Linked DNA regions of Homo sapiens: all the other regions are linked to region 1. Evidence: fine-mapped expression QTL. A gene starts in region 1. Each other region holds a variant in brackets. All regions are shown on one strand. Distances are between the middles of the regions. Region 1 holds the start of METTL8 (methyltransferase 8, tRNA N3-cytidine). Region 2 overlaps LOC107983995 (a long non-coding RNA gene). Region 3 has its middle 130 kb from the start of METTL8.

What was found. PIP is the estimated chance that this variant, and not a neighbour inherited with it, causes the effect. A credible set is the group of variants that fine-mapping cannot tell apart.
Region 2: its variant is the best candidate, but not a certain one, in a credible set for the expression of METTL8 in blood mononuclear cells (TOPMed, PIP 0.55).
Region 3: its variant is the best candidate, but not a certain one, in a credible set for the expression of METTL8 in esophagus mucosa (GTEx, PIP 0.50).

The regions. Positions count from the first base shown.
Region 1 is chr2:171,432,275-171,436,510 of GRCh38, forward strand. It overlaps METTL8 (methyltransferase 8, tRNA N3-cytidine), which reads right to left and starts at 1,716. Exons shown (of 10, transcript NM_001321154.2): 1 at 1,609-1,716. It overlaps DCAF17 (DDB1 and CUL4 associated factor 17), which reads left to right and starts at 1,952. Exons shown (of 14, transcript NM_025000.4): 1 at 1,952-2,429; 2 at 2,809-2,912. The coding sequence starts at 2,304. RefSeq lists enhancers at 950-1,119, 1,097-1,657, 1,330-1,399, 2,219-2,778 and a silencer at 1,710-2,619.
Region 2 is chr2:171,240,937-171,245,172 of GRCh38, forward strand. It overlaps LOC107983995 (a long non-coding RNA gene), which reads right to left. Exons shown (of 3, transcript XR_923576.2): 3 at 3,697-4,071. Among named protein-coding and RNA genes, the nearest start is that of TLK1, 82 kb to the left of the region's middle. RefSeq lists an enhancer at 3,367-4,236. The variant A/G (reference allele first, on the strand shown) is at 2,186.
Region 3 is chr2:171,301,712-171,305,947 of GRCh38, forward strand. No RefSeq gene overlaps it. Among named protein-coding and RNA genes, the nearest start is that of METTL8, 130 kb to the right of the region's middle. The variant C/T (reference allele first, on the strand shown) is at 2,212.

The sequences.
Region 1 (4,236 bases):
CTTAATAATGTGATAAAAAATGGTGAGGCCCTAAATTACTTAGGTGAAATGAAGATGAGATGGATAAGAGTCTAAAGGACTTGGTTGTGGGTGAGGAACAGCAAGGCATCCAGGATGACTCTCCCTTGGTGACGACTTGGTGGTGAAATAAAGGCCACAAGAAAGAAGACAAACAAGTGGGGGCAAAGAGGAAAGAGAAATGAGAGAGTTGATGAATTCAATTCAGAAATGATTTGAATTTCATTTAAGCCAAAGAAAACCCAGTTATCTTTTCTGGGTTCCAGTTTTCTCAGTGACAGCTGCATTCATGAATTACCAAATTAACTATTGTAGCACTCTCTAAAAATATACAAAGCACTCTACCGTATGCTGTAAATAAGTCATGAAAAATCAGCAAAAGCTCGAGCCCTGAAGGAAATTCAGCAGGGTTAAAAAGAGATATGGCCAATGTTTACTAAACACTTAAACTGTGACCCAACACACTCACCCAGTACTGTAAGTACTCACTTAATGTCATCAACAGATTTTTGGAAACTGACTGTAAGCAAAATGACATATAACAAAACCATTTTTACCATAGGCCAATTGATATAAACAAAAGTTAAGTTCCTATAACATATTTCTGGTCACAAAAACATCACCAAACTCCTAAATACAAACCAAAACACTTCTAATATTAAACATTGAAATAAATGGGAGCTATACATACATTTAAGGAAGATTAATAAAAACAAGTAAGATAGTTATTTACCTAATTATTCCAGTTCAGGGTCGAGGGTGGCTGAAGCCTATCCCCTCAGCTCAGGGTGCAAGGTGGGAACCAACCCTTGGACACGACGACATTCCATCGCAGGGAGCACTCACACTCACACTCAGACAGGAAACACAGACAAGGCCAATTCATCCAGCCTGCACTGAGATGTGGGAGGCAGTACCCTGGGGTACCTGGTGAAAACCCATGCAGACGTGGGGAGAAGGGGCAAGATCCACACAAACAGTAGCCCCGGTAGGAAATTATTATTTTTTCTCATCAAGTTATACAAAATGACACTGAACGAAAAAATGCGATTCAAGGACCTGCTGTACTGTACTTTTTGCTCTGCCAGTCAGGTGCGATCGCTGGCTTTCTTTGAGCACCTATGAACAAGAGGTAGCATGCCCAAGTCCACGTGGGAGATACAGCGGCCCCACCCTTAAGGGACTTAGAGCATGGCGGTGGGACACATGTGGTGCAAGCTTGCTGAAAGTTTAGTGTGCTGGGAACTTTGAACATACAGGCAGGGCTAGTTAACAAAGTATATCTTTTACTTAGAGACATCGACGAGGAATATCTTAGGCCGTCCAATAAGAATGTAAGCATTTCATATTTTATTCCCTATAAAGAAAAAAGAATGGAGGCGAGAGGAAATGAAATGAAGCAATTATCGCAAAACCAGTCAGTGTCCCCGCAGGCCACCCAAGGACAAGCCTCCGGGAAAGAGTAACTCAATCCCAGTTTGGAGGGTGAAACTAAGAGTGAATGGGAAGCCAGCATCTTCCTAATACAAAAGCACAGTTTACCGTCCCCCTCAGCCAACATGCGGCTGAAGGGAAAGCCGCGGGGCGTACCTTTAGCACGGGACGCTGCTTTGGGGGGATCGCCCTCGACACAGCGCCCCTCCCGGCACCTGGCCAGAACCTCCCAGGGCGAAGGTCGGGGCCGAGAAGCTTGTGAGTACCGGGGCAGTGAGGGAGGGATCCCTAAGTGCAGGGCGCACACACGGGGCGGAGACCTGGAGGCGGCAGCACCGCGCCCCCAGGGCTCTGCCCAGCTAGCCACTCGCAGCACAGAGAAGCGCGCCCGCAAGACAGCGCAGCCTCCGCGGGCCGGAGGAGGCGGGGCCGCGGCAGGCAGAGGCAGGGCCGGGCAAGCCCTCGCTCCCCGCCGCCTGACGGGAATTGTAGTTCCTGGGAGAAGCCGGGCTGCCTCACGAGGCACTAGGAACTACATTTCCCGGTGAGAGAGCGGCTCCGGCCGGCCGCGCGGTACCGGAGCGTCGCACTGTCAGCGGCCAGAGAGCCTGGGGCAGATCGAAAAGGGAGTGCTTCTTCCCTTCTCTCCGCGCTCTGGCGGTGCAAGCGGCTCTGCTTTCCCTCGCCCCGCCGTCGGGTGCTCCCTGCCCGCCTCCCCGTGTCAGCTTTCCCTGGGCCCCGCCGGGAAAGTCTGGGCCTCGAAATTCGAAGGCAGCGGCGGCTGCCCAGCACGGGAGTGTGGGGCGCGCCACTCGGCGGCCCAGCCTACCCAGGGCCCGGCCCGCGCCTCCATGGGCCCGACCCGGAAGCCCAACGTGTGCAGCCGGCTGAGTCGCCGGGCGCTGGGCTGCTTCTCGCGCGACGCAGGCGTGGTGCAGAGGACCAACCTGGGCATCCTGCGGGCGCTGGTGTGCCAGGTGACCGCCAGCCGGCCGGGGCGGGACGGAGGGCCGCGGGCGCGCGGCGGCCGAGCCTCCTGCGGGGATGCGGTTTTAACGCGCTGGGGCCTCCCTTTATAGGGTCACATGTGATGGGGAGGAGGATACAAGCCCGGAATCTGGGATAGGTGGTAATAGGGCCACCAGCTGCTTTTAGTTTTACGCTTCTTATGTCTTACCTGGAAACAATTATTCTAAAAGTTGGTCACCTCATTAAGCCAAAACATGAGGGCAGAGTGGAGGAAGGATGCAAAAAGTTTTAAAATAATATAGGTGACATTATGTTGCTTTGAAAATTTAAAATCTAACTTAAAGCCTAAGAGTTCTTTCCTGAACGGAAATTCTTTATGTCTTTTAGGAAAGTACTAAATTTAAGAATGTCTGGACAACTCATTCCAGGTCACCTATAGCCTATGAGAGAGGAAGAATATATTTTGACAATTATCGGCGCTGTGTCAGCAGGTAACTTTTTATTGATAATTTTGCTGTAATTCACCTCACTGTTGATCTTAACTATAATTTGTATAGAACCACATGCCTACATTAGTGCCTAGTGAAATAGAATGAAAAAAATGGGTCCGAAATAAGACTAGGCAGTAAAAAATGCATGTAATTTTAAAATCTTGTTAAATCTAAAGTTGCAGGTGTCATTTTTGTAAATACCAACTTAAAGCAAAACTACAGTGCAGGCAAAACCACAGATTGTTCAGAGTACTGTTTAGTGTTTAGTCTACTTATACCACAGTCAAGAAATCCAGTTGCCAATCAAATAATTAGATGCTGCTTTGGAGAATTGATGGATTGTGTTTTGGAAGTACTTGCCTTTTTTTTTTTTTTTTAGAGAAATTTTTTCAAACAAAAGCCTAGTATTTAGAGATCCAAAATGTTTAACAGTCAGCCTCATCCACAACTGTCCAACATGAGGGGGGAAGGAAAGCCACAATGCATCCCCATATACTCATTACCCAGATTCAAAAACTATCAAGATTTGCCACATTTGCTTTATCTAACCCACTTTTCCTTTTGCATGACCTCTTTTAAAGCATATTCTAAACATACATCAGTTTGCATTTTTAAAAAAATGAGCTTTTTTTATAGGCTTTATTAGGATATAATTCACATACCATATATTTACCCATTTAAAGTGTACAGTTCAATAATATTTAATGCATTCACAGATACATGTAATCACTACCACAGTTAATTTTAGAGCATTTTCATCACTTCAAAACAGAACCATGTACCTTTAAGCAGTCACCTCAGTACCACCATTACCCTCAGCCCTAAGCAACCACTAGTCTGTTTTCTGTCTGTAGATTCACCTATTCTGTACTTTTCATATAAATGGAATCATATAATATATGGTCTTTTGTAACTGGCTTTTTCACTTTGCGTGTTTTCAAGGTTCATCCATGTTGTCACATGCATCAGAATTCCTTTATAAAGTTGAATAATATTGCATTGTATCAATTACCACATTTTACGTATCCGTTTATCAGTTGTTAGACATTGGTGTTTCTACCTTTTAGCTATTATAAATAATGCTGCTATAAACATTTCCATGTAAGTTTTTATGTGGGCATTTATTTTCACTTCTCCTAGATTATACCTAGGAATGGAATTGGTAGGTCATAAGATTATACTGTAACTGCGTTTAATAGTTAGAAGAACTGCCATACACTTTTCTAAAGTGGTAGTACCATTTTATGTTCCCATAAGCAGTATATGAGGGTTCTGATTTTTCCACATTCTTGTCAACACTTGATGTGTGACTCACAGCATCTCA
Region 2 (4,236 bases), 190 kb before region 1:
TAAGAAGTAATTTCTCCAAAGTAGACATGTTCAGGCACAAGTAACAATATTGTAGAGTGAATTCCTGCCTCGGTGGGGAGAAAGGACTAGGTGACCTCTAGACTTTCCACAATCCCATGGCATTTGATGGGACTAAAGGAGAGCTCTGCTCTGACAATCAGTGCTCTAGAGAGCTACTTGATTCTGATTGCTTGTCCAAAGACTCAGGAGGAAATCAGTTCTTCCTGGGGTATCCGGACCCACCAGACATTGTCAAGGCTTTCTTTCCATTATTGAATCCTCTCCGCAGGCTAGTATCAATTATTACTCTGCCTTTACAAATGAAGAACTGAGGCTCAGAGAATTTGTGTTACCAGTCTTAATTATAATAGAATCCAGTCTTGTCTGTCTTGAAGACTGTGTTCTTAATCATTTTATTACACTGAAACACTGATTACAAATGTATCAACATATTTAGGCACTATATAAAATCAAACAAACTTTTAAAATAGTCAAACAGGTCTTGATACACATTTTTGTTACTATGTCATTTAGTTGCCACTTCATAACAAAATCTTGATTTTTCTCTTCTAGTTTTCAAAAAAATTCTTCTTTTTCCCTCAGTTTTAAAGCTTCCAGGCCTATGACATGCTAGGAAGAAATCACTCTTTAAAAGTCCTAGTAGACATTACAGGGTTTCTCCCATTGTGTACATTAATTCAGAATCTTGTGGAGTATGACTTCCATGTCCTTAAAGGCAAAGTCTTTCTCCAATATCTCTTTTCCTTGCTCTTTCTTCTTTCTGTTCAGGAAAAATTATTCTCCCCTCACCCTCCTTTTTTCTCTTCTACTACTATCTGAAGTCTCTGTCTAACCACTTTGTTTCCTTTCTTTTTTATTTATTTTAATATATTTTTTAAAAAACTTGTTTTCTTCTTTTCCTTCTATTTGGAGACAGTGTCTTGCTCTGTCAACCAGGTTGGAGTGCAGTGGTATGATCATAGCTCACTGCAGCCCCATGCTCCCGGGCTTAAGTGATTCTCCCACCTCAGCCTGCTGAGTAGCTAGGACTACAGGCATGCCCTACCATGCCCAACTAATGTTTTAAGTTGTTTTTGCAGAGACAGGGATCTCACTATGTTGCCTAGGCTGGTCTGGAACTCTTGGCCTCAAGCAATCCTCCTACCTCAGCTTCCAAAAGTGCTGGGATTACAGGCATGGGCCACTGTGTCTGGCACTGTTTTCTTTCAATGAGAAAAAATTTACTCTAGTAACTAAGTTACTAATTCATTCAATTAACCTTCTCCTTAATCACTTCTCAATTGGCTTAAGTGATTTCTTTGCTAAACCCCGCAGTTTTACAATCTGCTCTGGCCAACCTGCATCTTCAGAGAAACTTACAAAAAATCAGGGGGGTCTCTCTGGATCTATTCTGGTTCTGGGGCTGCCCAATTAAAAAAACAAAAAGAAAATAATCAAAACACTTTAAATACTTTTTTTTTTTTTTTGGAGACAGAGTCTCACTCTGTTGCCCAAGCTAGAGTGCAGTGGTGCAATCTCAGCTCACTGCAACCTCCGCCTCCTGGGTTCAAGCAATTCTAGTGGGTCAGCCTCCTGAGTAGCTGGGACTGCAGGCATCTGCCACCATGCCCAGCTAATTTTTTTTTTTATTTTTAGTAGAGACAGGATTTTACCATGTTGGCCAGGCTGATCTTGAACTCCTGACCTCTGGTGATCTGCCTGCCTCGGCCTCCCAAAGTGCTGGGATTACAGGTGTGAGCCACCGTGCCTGGCCAAGGATTTTTAAAGGAAAAGAAGAGACACTTCCTGAGTTGGTTACCAAGAATTTCCATTCTTTTTGTTGTCGTCGTTTTTAATCTACTCATCAAAAAGGAAAATAATTTCTATTCAAATAACATAAGTAGGTTGGGCATGGTGGTTTATGCCTGTAATCCTACACTTTGGGAGGCCAAGGTGGGAAAGATTGCTTTAGCTCAGGAGTTCAAGACCAGCCTGGGCAACATAGTGAGACCCTGTCTCTTAAAAAAAAAAAGAAAAAAAAGATAAATAAAATAAGCTATTGATTGGCTATATACTGTCCTTGGTATCATGAATTCCAGGAACATGAAGACAGCAGGAGAGGCAGCTAGTTAGGAACAAAATGACTTTAAACAATACCCCCAGGCATGAGTAGGGGATGACTGCA[A/G]GCCCTGCACTGTGTCTCTCTGGGCCTGCAAACCTCACAGAGCTGAGAGCTCTTTGAGCTGTTTTTCTTTTCTCAGAACCATTTAAACATAAGTTATACCATGATAAAGACATAGCCATAGGAAGTCCATACAACTCAATTGATTTATATTCTCCAAAATGGTGTCATCAATTAAAATGATGTAGATGGAATCTGATTTTCCCTTTTGAACCTGTAAGAAGGCGATGAAGTGTCTAAGGCCCTGAAGCCCATGATTTAATGAATGCTGGGTATTTATTAAAATGAAAGAAGCAAAAAACTGGAAGGAACTTTAAAATCATCCAGAGACTCCAATTCTTCTATTTTACAAATATGGAATAGCAACCTCTTACTCCATAGTCAATAAATTATATATCTAATGCTGAATAGTGTAATCTAAATAGTAATTAATCACACCCAACTTCAAATTTCATGATAACGACTTATGCATACACTACAGGAAAGTCTCTTTTAATATTCTTCATAATTTTTTCCTTGTTTTGATTGTAGCAAAGCAAAAATGAAAGGATTGCTGCAAGGAATCTTGGGCCAAGGAACTGAAAATAACTTTTTTTTTCTTTGAGATGGAGTCTCGCTCTGTTGCCCAGGCTGGAGTGTGATGGCACAGTCTCGGCTCACTGCAACCTCCGCCTCCCAGGTTCAAGCGATTCTCCTGCCTCAGCCTCCCGAGTAGCTGGGATTACAGGCATGCGCCACCACGCCCGGCTAATTTTTGTATTTTTAGTAGAGACAGGGTTTCACCATGTTGGTCACGCTGGTCTTGAAGTCCTGACCTCATGATCTGCCTGCCTCGGCCTCCCAAATTGCTGGGATTACAGGCATGAGCCACTGCATCTGGCCGAAAATAACTTCTAATGGAAATTTTGACAAAGCTTCTTCGGGAAGTAACTTTGGGGGAAATTTTGGGGGTGGTCTTTGCGTACATGGTTCAGGAAAGTTTGTCTCACTGTCTAACTTCATAGCTTTATAAATCAAATTAATGGTGTTGAGTTGTGGTATAATATAGTTGGTCTTTATTTGCCTCCAGTTCCTGGCACAGAGCTCCTAAATTATTAGAATTTCTTGAGTGATAGGTGTATCTTTTGTTATTCATAATGAGCTCCTTTTGACCATACTAGAGTTTATGTTAATGAGGTGACTCAGGGTGGCCTTAGATAGATTTAGGTTGGGGACTGGTCCCCAGAAAGACCAAACATGGGATCAGAGGGTTGAACATTTAACCCCACCCTCCAACCTCCCGGGAGGGGAGAAAGGCTGGAGATTGAGCTCAATCACCAATGGCCAATGATTTGATCAAACACACCTACAAAACAAAGCTTTGATAAATACTCTTGAACAGTGAAATTTAGAGAGCTTCTGGGTTGGTAACATTGATGTGGTGGGAGAGTGGCACCGTGGAAGAGGACATGGAAGTGTGACTGTAACAGGTTCCTTACCTAAAGCATGGCAAGTGGACACACTGACCTCAAGGATTGCAGCAGAGAAAGGGTTTAATAATCATAGGGCATCTGAACAAGGAGATGGAAGGAAACCTCAGATTTGCCTCCCTGAGGAGTTTGTAAGGGGTTTGGAGTGGGCTGAGGTGTGGGGATTGCAGGGTGAAGTCATGGACTGGAGAGATGAAGAAACTGCATTCTCATGTTGATTCAGCTCTTCTGTGGGGATTGCAGGGTGAAGTCATGGACTGGAGAGATGAAGAAACTGCATTCTCATGTTGATTCAGCTCTTCTGTGGGGATCCTCAAACTGGTTGTGGATGTCAGCTGTTCTGCTGGAATTCAGGATCTGAAGAACATCTTAAGCAACTCTTAAACAAAAGCCTCATGATTCCAACATCCGAAATCCCATCTATAGAAACAATGTGGATGCAAATGGTCAGTATCCAGTGCTATGTGACTTTCAGTTACAAGTAAGTAGGCCAAAATGCAGCCTATAATTAAGCCTCATGCTTAATTATAACTATATTTCTGTCCAGAACCTGGCATGAAATTCTTGTCAACTCTGTGATTGAAA
Region 3 (4,236 bases), 130 kb before region 1:
TTTAATAGAGGTTAAGAGCTGTTGAGACACATACCCTAGGGACTAAGGAAATAGAAAACAAGAGAAATATAAAGAATCAGAGAGGAAGATTTTAGGGGAGAAATTGCTTCTACATACAATCTGTAATTTCACATTAATAGTCATATATTAAGGTTAAGACCTACTCAAATTTAATAATCTGACTCTGTTTTTTACAACTGTAAACGAGCTCACTATCCATGGTATTCTCCATGATATTTTTCTCTTAGTCATAACTCAGTGGTTCTCAAGCCTGGCTAACCATCAAAATCTCCTAGAGAATAAAAAACATCATCTGTACAGAGGAAACAAACAAACAAAAACAGACACAAAAAATGCAAAAACATAACACACACCAATGCCTAGGCCTCCCATAGATAGATGAAATCAGAATCTGGTGGTGGATCACAGGAATCAGTAGGTTTGCTTATTGCTTTTAGAGAGAGACAGGGTCTCACTCTGTTGCCTAGGATGCAGTGCAGCAGAGCAATCATGGCTCACTGCAGCCTTGAACTCCCGGGCTCCAACAATCTTCCCACCTCAGCCTCCCAAATAGCTGGGACTACAGGCGCATGCCACCATGCTGGACTTATTTTTTTGCCTGGGGGTGGTGGGGGGTTGGGGGTGTGTGTAGAGATGGAATCTTGCTATGTTGCCCAGGCTGGTCTCAAACTCCTGGTCTTAAGCAATTCTCCTCCTCCCAAAGTGCTGGGATTATAGGCATGAGCCACTGTGCCAAGCCAAATCAGTATGTGTTAAAAGCTTCTCAGGTTCTTCCAATAAACAATGAGGGTAGAGACCCATTGTTCCAACAAGAGCAGTTAGAATCTTTCTGGAACGGTTCTAATTTTAATGTAATACAGATCACCTGGGGATCTTATTAAGCTGCAGATCTTGATTTGCTAGGCCTGAGTTGGAGATTGCGAGGTCGAATTGCTAACAGCCTCTCCTGGTGATGTTAACGCTAATAGTCTGCAAACCACCTTATAAAAAGGATCTAGGAAAATTAAGACAGGTGGTTAATTCCAGAGTAGAGGGGCCAGAGACAAGTAACTAACAACAACAACAAAAAACTTTTTTTTAACCTTAACAAAAGGGTAAAAACAAAAGTATATAGGACCTCTTTTATTTTATTTTATATTTTTTTTGAGACTGAGTCTTGTTCTGTCACCCAGGCTGGAGTGCAGTGGTGCAGTCTTGGCTCGCTGCCTCCCAGGTTCAAGCAATTCTCCTGCCTCAGCCTCCCAAGTAGCTGAGATTACAGGCGCCTGCCACCACACCCAGCTAATTTTTTATGTTTTCAGTAGAGAGGGGGTTTTACCATGTTGGCTAGGCTGGTCTTGAACTCCTGACCTCATGATCCGTCCACCTCGGCCTCCCAAAGTGCTGGGATTACAGGCATGAGCCACCACACCCGGCCAGGACCTCTTTTAATACAACCCAATTTATTTATTTATTTATTTTTTATTTTTATTTTTTGAGACGGAGTTTCGCTCTTGTTGCCCAAGCTGGAGTACAATGGCGCAATCTCGGCTCACCGCAACCTCCTCCTCCCAGGTTCAAGTGATTCTCCTGCCTCAGCCTCCCGAGTAGCTGGGATTACAGGGATGCACCACCATGACTGGCTAATTTTTGTATTTTTAGTAGAGACGGGGTTTCTCCATGTCGGTCAGGCTAGTCTCAAACTCCCGCCCTCAAGTGATCTGTCCACCTCAGCCTCCCAGAGTTCTGGGATTACAGGCTTGAGCCTCTGCGCCTAGCCTATGACCCAAATTTTTAACTTGGTCACTGCTATGGTTGGAATGTTTGTATCCCCCTAATATTCATATGTCGAAATCCTAACCCCTAAAGTGATGGTATTAGAAGGTGGGCTGTTGGGAGGTGATTAGGTCATGAGAACTAAAGGGATTAGTGTCATCATAAAAGAGTCCTGAAGGAGCTCAGTTGTCCCTCAGCCTCCCAAAGTTCTGGGATTATAGGTGTGAGTCACCATATCTGGCCAAATCCTCCAGTGCCTTGATCTTGGATTTCCCAGCCTCCATAACTGTGAGAAATACATTTCTGTTGTTATAGCAACCCAAATGGGCTAAGAGAGTCGCCTCATCTAAACATGAATTACAGTCAACGAAATGCTAAATTGATAGCATGGACTTACCTATATTGCCTCCTACCTCCCAGGTTTGCTGTATGTGA[C/T]CGCAGTCATGTCATAATAGTCCAGAAGGGCCTGCTGTGAGTGACACTCCCTAGCACCAAGCTTTAGGCTATGCAGTTGGAGGTGACATTTGGATTGAAATAACAGATAAGCTGAAGTCATAGGTAAGAAGATGAGCATGAACTCTGAAGGGAGATTTAAGACCAGAAAATGGGAAATGAGCACTTTGGTCAGAGATCAAGAGGCAGCTAGGTGCAGTGGCTCATGCCTGTAATCCCAGGACTTGAGGAGCCTGAGGCAGGAGGACTGCTCGAGCCTAGGAGTTTGAGATCAGCCTGGGCAACAAAATGAGATCCCATCTCTACCAAAAAAAATTTAAAAATTAGCCAGGTGTGGTGGTATGTGCCTGTAGTCCTTGCCACTCAGGAGGCTGAGGCAGGAGGATTGCTTCTGCCTAGGGATTTGAGGTGGCAGTGAGCTATGATCACACAACTGCACTCCAGCCTGGGAAAAAGAATGAGACTCTGTCTCAAAAAAAAAAAAAAAAAAAAAAAAGTAAGAGGCTGGAGAGACAGAAAAAAATATAGTTCTTAAAATGCCAAACTTGACCCTCAAAGAATGTTGAGGTTTTTCTCCTATGGTGTGCCAGGCACACTAAGAGGGAGGTCATGTGTAACTCCTTTGCTTCAGGCTCTCTCCACTTGTCCATCACCAACCACAAGGAGTAATGGAAGGGCTGAACTTTCCCAGGTTTGCTTGGCAAAGAGTTGTGATGATCCCAGAGCATACTGTGGGGTGGAGTGTTATGAGAAGGTTCTGTGGTGGTGGGAGTCCAGGATGTCTTATAATTAAGTCCTTCCTCTGGGACTGGATGACAAGAGTATATGCACAGTGCCAGGCACAGTCGACATCGGCTGGCCATAGTGAGAAACGGTGGAAAACAGCGTGGTGTATATAAAAAGTGGATGGCGGCCGGGCACGGTGTCTCACGCCTGTAATCCCAGCACTTTGGGAGGCTAAGGCGGGCTGATCACTAGATCAAGAGATCGAGACCATCCTGGCCAACATGGTGAAACCCCGTATCTACTAAAAACACAAAAATTAGCTGGGCATGGTGGCATGCACCTGTAGTCCCAGCTACTCGGGAGGCTGAGGCAGGAGAATCCCTTGAACCCAGGAGGTGGAGGTTGCAGTGAGCCAAGGTCGCACCACTGCACTCCAGCCTGGCAACAGGGTGAGACTCTGTCTCAAAAAACAAAAAACAAACAAACAAAAAAAAAACAAGAAAGAAAGAAAGAAAAAAGTGGATGGCAAGTCCAGGGAGCTAGAAATAGAGGGCAGAAGTTCATAGTTTTGGAAGGCCAGACTGAACACTGGGCTAGCTGCTTTTTTTTTTTTTTCTTTTTTGAGACACAGTCTCGTTCAGTCACCCAGGCTGGAGTGCAGTGGTGGGATCTTGGCTCACTGCAACCTCTGCCTCCCGGGTTCAAGCAATTCTTCTGCCTCAGCCTCCTGAGTAGCTGGGACTACAGGCACGCACCACCATGCCCGGCTAATTTTTGTATTTTTAGTAGAGACGGGGTTTCACCATATTGGACAGGCTGGTCTTGAACTCCTGACCTCGTGATCCGCCTGCCTTGACCTCCCAAAGTGCTGGGATTACAGGCGTGAGCCACTGCACCTGGCCGCTAGCTGCTTTTTTAAAAATTGTGGTAAAATGCACATATAATAAAATTTACCATCTTAACTATTTTTAAGTGCACAATTCAGTGACATTAGTACTTTCACATTGTTGTGCTACCATCAATATTGGGCCCATCAATATCATCCATAGAACCCTTTTCATCTTGCAAAACTAAAACTCTGTACCCATTAAGTGACAATTCCCCATCCCCCTGTCACCCAGCCCTGGTGACCACCATTCTATTTTCCATCTCTATGAATTTGACTATTCCAGGTACCCCATGTAAGTGGAATCATACTATATTTTTCCTTTTGTGATTGGCTTATTTCACTTGGCGTGATGTCCTCAAGGTTCATTCATATTGTAGCATGTGTCAGAATTT